Linked DNA regions of Homo sapiens: region 2 is linked to region 1. The links come from fine-mapping of genetic effects on gene expression. A gene starts in region 1. The other region holds a variant in brackets. All regions are shown on one strand. Distances are from middle to middle. Region 1 holds the start of CDCA4 (cell division cycle associated 4). Region 2 has its middle 6.7 kb from the start of GPR132.

The links. PIP is the estimated chance that this variant, and not a neighbour inherited with it, causes the effect. A credible set is the group of variants that fine-mapping cannot tell apart.
Region 2: its variant is the best candidate, but not a certain one, in a credible set for the expression of CDCA4 in thyroid (GTEx, PIP 0.63).

What each region holds. Positions count from the first base shown.
Region 1 is chr14:105,018,836-105,023,287 of GRCh38, forward strand. CDCA4 (cell division cycle associated 4) reads right to left here and starts at 2,248. Exons shown (of 2, transcript NM_017955.4): 1 at 2,164-2,248. RefSeq lists enhancers at 313-973, 1,425-1,940, 2,455-2,968, 2,984-3,043 and silencers at 1,594-1,683, 1,694-2,583, 2,614-2,683.
Region 2 is chr14:105,069,942-105,074,248 of GRCh38, forward strand. No RefSeq gene overlaps it. Among named protein-coding and RNA genes, the nearest start is that of GPR132, 6.7 kb to the left of the region's middle. RefSeq lists enhancers at 1-1,016, 76-355. The variant A/G (reference allele first, on the strand shown) is at 2,565.

The DNA.
Region 1 (4,452 bases):
AAGCGATTCTCCTACCTCAGCCTCCCGAGTAGCTAGGACTACAGGCACGCGCCACCACACCCGGCTAATTTTTGTATTTTTTGTAGAGACGGGGTTTCACCATGTTGGCCAGGCTGATCTCGAACTCCTGAACTCAGGCAATCCGCCCATCTCGGCCTCCCAAAGTGCTGGATTACAGGCGTGAGCCACCATGCCTGGCCCCCTGCTCAGTTTTGAAGCTCTTTCTACACATCTAGTTAAATGCCTAAAATCCCACCAACTCCACAGGTTGTTACCGGGACAGCCAAGCCCTCAGTCAACTCCCAGCACTGCCCTCAGGCTTCTAAACCAAGCACCGACCAGACAGAGAAAAACGAAGAGGGCCAGACGGACTGAGGACATGTCCGACATGGCAGGTGGAACAGCCAACAGGCCACTAGGGACAGAGCAACCTAGGCCCACCGAGGCAGAGGCCAGCAGGGAGCAGCCCCGCAGTGCTGCTCAGGCAAGCAGAGTACAGCTCGGGGACTGGTCCTTCACTACAGCAGCAGTGGCCACACCTTCGTGGCTGAGCAATACCACGAGGCTGGCTGAAAACGCAGATTCCCAGATTCTGATCAGTAGGGCTGGGACGGTTGGGGACAGACTCAACTCTGACCTAACCTGTCACCTTCACAGCTGGACTTGCAGCCACTTCAAAGTTTCGGGTTTTTAAGCAAATCATCAACAATTTCCATTCCTCACACATCAGATAAGCTTTGAAATACTTTATCGGAAAAACAGGGAGAAGAGGAGCAAGGTCTGCAGTCTTGAGTACTGAGTGGGAGCTCCACCTTCCACTACAAGTCTCCTGGAGGCTGTTCATGAACAATTACTGTTATGTTAATTTCAGGTATTTGGTTTTTTTTGTTTTTTGAGACGGAGTCTCGCTCTGTCGCCCAGGCTGGAGTGCAATGGCACGATCTCGGCTGAGACCTCTGCCTTTCTGGTTCAAGCGATTCTCCTGCCTCAGCCTCCCACATAGCTAGGATTATGATTACAGGCATGCGCCATCACGCCCAGCTAATTTTTGTATTTTTAGTACAGACGGGGTTTCACCACGTTGGCCAGCTAGTCTCGAACTCGGGACCTCAGGAGATCCACCCGCCTAGGCCTCCTCTCAAAGTGCTGGGAGGTGTGAGCTACCGCGCCCAGCCAATTGCAGGTACTTTTGTTACTTGGAACGAAACACACTCCTTCTTTTCCCTGAAAACATGTTCCAGTGGCAAGTTGAGGGAAACTTCCTAGCCCCTTTTCCAAGATACAGCCTACTACTCTTCCTAGAAAAGGGGTGTAACTCACTTTGTATTCTGGATTTCCACCCTAATTATAAAACACGGTGACACTTGAAAATAGAGTGGTTGTACGTAGAAAGTTGATAAAACGTAAGTTTTGTGAACAGGCAATGTTTTTCTGTGGCTCGCTTTGAGAGAACGGTTATCTGGGTCCCGCCGTCCCGTGCGTCCCACACGAAGGCCACAGGAGAAGCGAGGCAGCGGAGACCCTCTATTCCAGCAAGCTGTCGGAGCCTTTGCCACGACGATCCTGTTTGCGGGGCGAGAAGCGTCTGAAGACGCGGAGGGAGGCTTGCGTCTGACTTCTGCAAGTGTCTCGGGGACTTTCCCTAGTCCCACCTCGCACCGCCGGAGGAGCCCAGGGAAGACGGCGCTGGCCGACCCGCCCGGGGTCTGGGCCTCCTCCCACATCCGCGGCCCTCTCCGCGGCCGGGCTCCGACAGAGGGGGCTGCGGCGCGCCTGGCGTTCCCTCCGCTGCAACTAGAGCCGAGGTACGGGAAACGCCGCTGCGTACCCCAGCCGGGCCCTCGTGAAGCGGCTCCCGCGTGGGGCCGCCCGCAGGCCTCGGCAAAGCCCCAGCTCCGCGCTCCGCAAGGAACGCAGACGGCGGCCCGGGCCCCTCTGTTCCCCGGGCCCCCTCAGCAGCGGCCACCCCGCGGGGGAACCAGCGCCCAGGAGGGCGGCGAGGGCGCCGCGGCAGCCCCAGCGGTGGTCCCGGGCGCCGCCTCCGCCCCGGACCCAGCGCCAGGAGCCACAGACTCCGCGCACCGCCCCCAGGCTCCTCCGCGCCCTGCAGCACAAAAGTGCACGCCGCCGTAGACGCCCTAGCGGTCCGCCGGGCCCGCTCACCTGACCCGCGAGGCCGCCCGCCGGGTCCTCTGCTCAGCCACCGCCACCGCCGCTGCCGCCAGCTTCCCGCCGCTGAGGAAGGAGCGCCCGACGGCGCGGGGCGGGGCGAGCGACCGCCACTCGGCGTCCACAAAGGGTCGACGCTGCGCTCTCCGCGCGCTACGCCCGCTGATTGGCCACTCGCGGGCCGGGGGCGGGGCCTCTTGTTCAAACCCACGCGGGCGGGGCATCTGTGGCGCGTCTTCCCGCGCTGCGGCGACGGCCGTTGGGGCTCGCGCGCGCCCTCGGTTGCCCCGCCCCCGCCCCTGCGCCCGGCCCCGCCACGCCCACGCCCCGCCGGCTCCCAGGTCTCCCCGCGCCCAGTCCGGCCCCGCCCCGCCAGCTCCCAGGTCTCCGCGCGTCTGGCCCTGAACTGAACGCGCCTGCGCCTGGGGCCCACGTGGGGCCCTCGGGCGGGCGTGGCGGGGCAAACAGAGGTTTGGACTCTCTCGCTTCTGCCTGGCTCAACTTCTCCGCCGAGGCATCCGTGCCGGGGTCGGGAGGAGCCGGGCACGGCAATTCCCGGGCGGTCTGGGCTCCGAGGTCTATCCAAGCCTCTCCAGAGACCGGGGTTATCTCCAAAGGCTTCCTAGGTTTACACGTAAGAAATGTAACGTGAAAGTTCAAAGCAGGGGACACGTGTTTTAAATCTCTTAGTGGAAAAGGTTTTAAATAGGATGCGAGAACCTGCAATCATTGACTTAAGTAATACCCTGAGCGCCTGCAGCAGGCCCGGCAGGCGTGGCTGCAGCTGAGAGCCAAGTGCTGGAAGTTGGGGGGGAATCCTCAGATCAATCCGCAGGTGCGGATGCGCCAAGGTCGGTGGTAAATGCTGAAATGCTGTCGGGAAACCTGGGAGTGACGTGGGGGCGCTGCTCACATAGGTCTCTAGGATAAGGAGCGTCTTAAAGCACCAAAAGGAAGAGTGGACGAGAATTCAGGAGAGGAATGGCTGGGGCAAAGCCCGAGGCAGGGGCAGGAGGCAGGAGCACGTCTCAGTGCAGTGAGAAAGAACCCTGTGATCTCGTGGGAAAGTTTTAAGTGTGAGGGGTGGAGGGACTTTTGGGCTATTCTGGGAGTGGGATGGAGACTACTGGCATGGTCAGCAGAGAAGGAACTGGAATCTGAATTGTGCTTGAAAAGAATCACTGTTCTTATTTAAAAAAAAAAAAAAGGGGGTCTCTTTCGCCCAGGCTGGACAACAGTGGCGTGATTATGGCTCACTGTATCCTCGAACTCTTGTGCTCGAGTGATTCTCACGCCTCAGCCTCCCAAGTAGCTGGGACTACAGAAGTGTGCCACTACACCAAGCTAACTTTTTTTTTTTTTTTGGTAATTTTGTAGAGACAGGGTATTGTCTTGTTACACAGGCTGGTCTCCAACTCCTGGCCTTAAGTGATCCTCCTACCTTGGCCTCCCAAAGTTCTGGGATTACAGGCATGAGGCACCACAACCACCAAGAATCACTGTTGGTAATAGATTTGGAGGAGGTGGCAGGAAGGCTGGAAGTAGAAAATCCCATTAGGTTACTGCCCAGGTAAAAGAAAATGGGACTTGATAAAGGTGACTACCTGAGAATTTAAAGTTTATGCATGTCAAAGTGAAAAGACAAATGGGGAAAAAAGTTTTTCCTGGCTGTATCCCACATAAAGGTTAAATTCCTTAATATACAGATATTCTGCAAATGCAAATGAAATCTAGATCACCAAAGAAAAGTGGTTTGGAAATAGTGGCACCCACCTGTAATCCCAGCTACTCAGGAGGCTGGGGTGAGAGAATCCCTTGAGCCCAGGAGTTGGAGGCTGCAGTGAACTATGATTGCACCACTGCACTCCAGCCTGGGCAGCAGAGTGAGACCCCATCTCTTAAAAAAAGAAAAGAAAAGTGGGCGTAGAATATAAACACAGTTCAGAGCAAAGAAAATACAAATGCTCCTATACAGGCGAATAGATGCTCAGCCCCAATCAGAACAAGAGCAGTGGAAATTAAAGCTATGCTGGAGTGCTGTTTGCCACGGGTCAAATTGGCAAAGATCTAAAATAATGTCTGGAGTAAGATAATATCTTCCAGAGCATATTAGTCTATTCTCATGCTGCTAATAAAGACATACCCGAGACTGGGTAATTTATAAAGAAAAAGAGGTTTAATGGACTCGCAATCATGGCAGGAGACAAAGGAAAAGCGAAGGGACGTCTTACACGGCGGCAGGCAAGAGAGCGTGTGCAGGGAGCTCCCCTTTATAAAACCGTC
Region 2 (4,307 bases), 51 kb after region 1:
CCTGGGTGTTAGTGATGCAAGCAGGGGGTGGGGACCGGATGACAGGCCAAGTGGGAAGAGGAAAGGCGGAAGTGTCCTGAGGTTTCTGTTGGGGGACAGCTGCTCTGGTAAGAAGGCAAGAGGCCCCAGGTCTCAGCCAGGGAAGGGGTTTTTAGGGAAATTTTGAAGACAGCCTCCCCGAGACAGAAGAGGCAGGGGAAGATAGGGGCTTTTGAGAAGTGTCAACCCAAGAACTGGATCATTCTGAAACTCCTTGTTGCCAGCGCATGTTCCTTTGACCAGGGCATACCCCCAATGTGAATCATGAGTCATGGTTTCAACAGTCATAGTGTGTCCTAGTGAGGCCAGGGAGAGGCTGCCTGTGACCCCAGAAAACCCAGACGACCATGCCTAACCCACCTAATCCACAGAGTTTCCTCTTTCTCAGGGCTGGCACGACAGCCTCCACAGCCATGGGAAGCCCCCAGCCTTACCTCATGGTCCCAGATGGCAACTTGATCTCCAGCCTTCACATCTGTGTTCCAGGAATGAGGAAGGAGCGAAGGAGAGCAGGGCACGGCCCGTCCCCTGTGTGGAGAATTCCCGGAATTCCCACCCAGTTCGCCTGCTCCATCTTCCCTCTTTCCTGGGCCCAACGTAGTCTTGTGACCACATCTGGCAGCGAGGGAGGCTAGGAAACGTAGTCTTTGATGTCACTGCGCCAGCTGATGCTGGGTGTTCTCCTAATCAGGAAGGGGGCGCGGAGTCGGCGATGTGTGCTGCAATGGCACACACTGTCACCAGCTTTTCTTCCACCCAGCAAGGGCAGGTCCCTGGCAGCTGAGCGAGGGGCACGCTGGCCAAGCCCAGGGACTCAATTACCCCAAATGAGAAAAGGGTCAGGGGATGTTGAACTGGGAAGAAGGAGGTGGAGCCCCGAGGCCAGAGAAGCTGGGCGTATGAGAGAAAGCTTTTCTTCCATACTGTAACTCACAACGCCTCTGGCACTTCACTTCTGGGGTTAGGTTAAGGGCTCAGTCACCCGTGACTGCCCTGACTTCAGACACCAGTCATGGAGGGGTGGGTCCCCAGGTTACCCACTACTTCTGAATGCCTTGGCTGTGACAAATGGGAGGTCTGATGACTCTCTCCTCGGGTTCAGTCATTTGCTAGAACAGCTCACAGAGACTAGAACAACTGTTTGTTTCCTACTACTGAATTTTTTTTCTGTCATGCTCTCTCTCAGCAGAATGTTTTATATTATATATATCTATTTTTATTTTACATTTGCAGACAGGTCTGCCTCTGTCACCCAGACTGGAGCACAGTGGTGCAATCTTGGTTCACTGCAACCTCTGCCTCTTGGGCTCAAGCGATCCTCTCACCCCAGCCTCCCAAGTAGCTCGGACTACAGGCATGAGCCGCCACGCCCAGCTAATTTTTGTATTTTTTGTAGAGAGAGGGTCTCACCATGTTGCCCAGGTTGATTTTGAACCCCTGAACTCAAGCGATCTGTCCACCTTGGCCTCCCAAAGGCGTGAGCCACCGCACCCGGCCACTTCTGGCTTATTACTAAAGGAAACAACTCAGCCAGCAGAGATGCTCAGGGCAAGGTATGGGGATGCGGGTGGAGCTCCCACGGCCTCTCCGGGCGCCTCCCTCCGAGAGCCTCCACGCGTGCACCAACCCAGACGCTCTCCAAATCCCATTGTTCTGACTTTTCATGGAGGCTTCATCACACAGGCTTGGTCTCCAGCCCCTCCCTTCCCCAGAGCATGGCGGGTGAGGCCAGAAGTGTCAAGCTGCTCATCGTGGCTTGGTCTTGCTGGCGACCAGCCCCCATCCTGGAGCTACCCAGGAGCCCAGCAAGAGCTGCCTCATTGGAACAAAAGATGCTCCCATCACCTAGGCAAGTCTAAGGGATTAGGAGCTCTGTGTCAGTAATGGGGGACAGAGACCAAATATATATGTCTTATGATGTCATAAGAGGAGCCAAAAGAGGAGAAAAAGATGGAGGAGGAGGAGGAACACCCAGTGGGAGCGGGATTTGGTTCATTGTGAAGGAATTTTCTCCCCACGGGAACCCCGGGAAAACCCACATCAAGCCTTTGCACGCAGGATTGGTGTCAACCACCAAAACCATCCATCCACACTCCCGCCGTCCATCCACACGCCCGCCTGCCCGTCCACACGCCCGCCCGCCCGTCCACACGCCCGCCCGTCCGTCCACATGTCTGACCGTCCGTCCACATGCCCGCCGTCCATCCACATGGCCGCCATCGACTGACGTCAGCAGACCTCAGTATTCCCTGTCTCCATCCACATCACTCGCTCTTCCAGGGCAGTCTTGCCTAGGGAGATGAAGATGGCAAACAACCTTGCTGTTCAGCTCAGGAACTTCCAACATGCAATGGACACTTCTGTAGGAGGCATCAAGCCGTTCTTGGTGATATCTGTGTCTTCATCACGTGCTGGTTGCACGGGTGTTTAGGTAGGAACTCTCTGTGGAGCTGTGGGCATGACTGTGTCTGTGTCTTCAGTAGAGTTGAGAGGTTTGAGAGCAGTCATGAGGATTAACAGCAGAT[A/G]CCAGGAGGCTGCTCGCTGGTCCTGTCAACACGGCCATGTAGTCAGGATGCCAGCTCCCCCACCAAGTCAACTTTGGGGAGCTTGGCAGAGCCGTGACTCCAGGAGGCATCCCTGGACTCTCGAAGCCCCCTGCTGTGTGTGTGTCAGGGGGCTCTGAGCCCAGTGAGTGGCTGTCCCTGGGGCAGGCAGGGGGCACTTGAGGTGCCACAGAGGACACGGACCGTAGGAACCACGAGAGGGGCGGATGGCCCAGAGCCAGGGTGTGGATGACTGCCCTGGGCAGCTGGGGTCGGGAGGCAGCCTTTTCACTTCAATGAGAATGGTGTGCAGCTGGGATGGGACAGCCTCTCAGAAGGAGAGAAGGGACGTAACAGAAAGGTATGGTGGGGACACCAGAAAGCAGAGGTGCGGACAGGGCACTCCCTTGCTCTCACACCTGTGGGATCATCCCATCCCTGGCCGGCTCCAGCTCTGCCCACATTTCTCATTCCTCCTTTGGGTCTCATCAGAGTCCCCGCATCCCGCAGGAAGTGCCCCCACAGGCAGGCCTGGGTGGAGCTGGGTAGTCTTCCTCTGTGTCCCCCTCACCGCCCCCGCTTCCCAGCTCCAAGCAGGAGGCTATGTCCCTGCCGCCTCTGCCCCTACAAATGGACGGTTGCCAGCTGAAGGAATGAGCCCAATCCCGGCTCCTGCTCCCTGCCCGTGGGATCTGGGCAAGCTGCCGGACACTTTGGGCCTCAGTTTCCCCCTTACAATGTCTGCCTTTTTGTGGGGTCCTTGGGAGCTCCCTGTTGTTGGTTACACCAGTGGAGTGGACAGAGGCTCAGCCTAAGGGTGTTTCCAGAAAGGCCATCTGCTGGAGGGGGGCTGGGAGCATCCCTGGAGACAGAGAGCTTTAGACTAGCTGCTGGGGTGGGTGCGGTGGTGGGAGTGGAGCTGCTGGGGGCAGAAAAAGGGGCTTCCAAGGGGCATGCGGGTTCTGGCAAGCTGAATCCCTCACCGTAAACCATGCACCTGTCCAAGTGAAGAACTGCTCCAGGGCTCGCCTGGGCCAAGAAGGGGCTGCAGGGCACCCTACGAGGCCATGGTGGCTAAAGATAGGCTGAGCAAGCCAAGGGCCCTAAGCCGGCAGCCAAGGGTGGCCTGGGGGCTGCAGTGGGGGCCTGGGGGCTGCAGAGCCGGCCCCCAGCCTCTCTCCACCTCTGGCCTCTCAGCTCCCTGAGGGTGGTGTCCACGGCCAGCTGCTCTCCCCTCAGGGTGGAAGACCTGGGGAAGCCCCCAGTCTCAAGCTACAGCCTTGATTTCTGGAACAATCCCAGGACAGGACTCTGGCCCATCAGGTTCTGCAGCCCACCCTGGGCAGAGTGGCTCCTCTTCTGGGCAGCCCATACCTAGTGTGGTCGAGGCTGGGTTGCCCAGGCCTGGCCAGACGAATCTGGGTCCTTGTGTCCAGCTGGGCCTCGGAGCCTGCCACGCCCCCGGCACCACCACCCCCCTAATAAACTCCCCTTCCTCTACCTGTTTCCTCCACCAGCCTCTGGGTCTTGCTCCCTGCCAGGGTCCAACTCACAGCCACCTCCGCCACTGCTCCCGCGGTGACCATGCGTCCACGGCCCCCCAGGACCATGCTTGTCATTCTCTTGCCCTCTCTGCTTGGCGCGGGGTTTGGCTGCAGTCTGGGCTGCTCGATGCTCCCGGGGCAGGGGCTATTCCCCTGTGGTCTCAAGCTCTGGGCTGGCAGG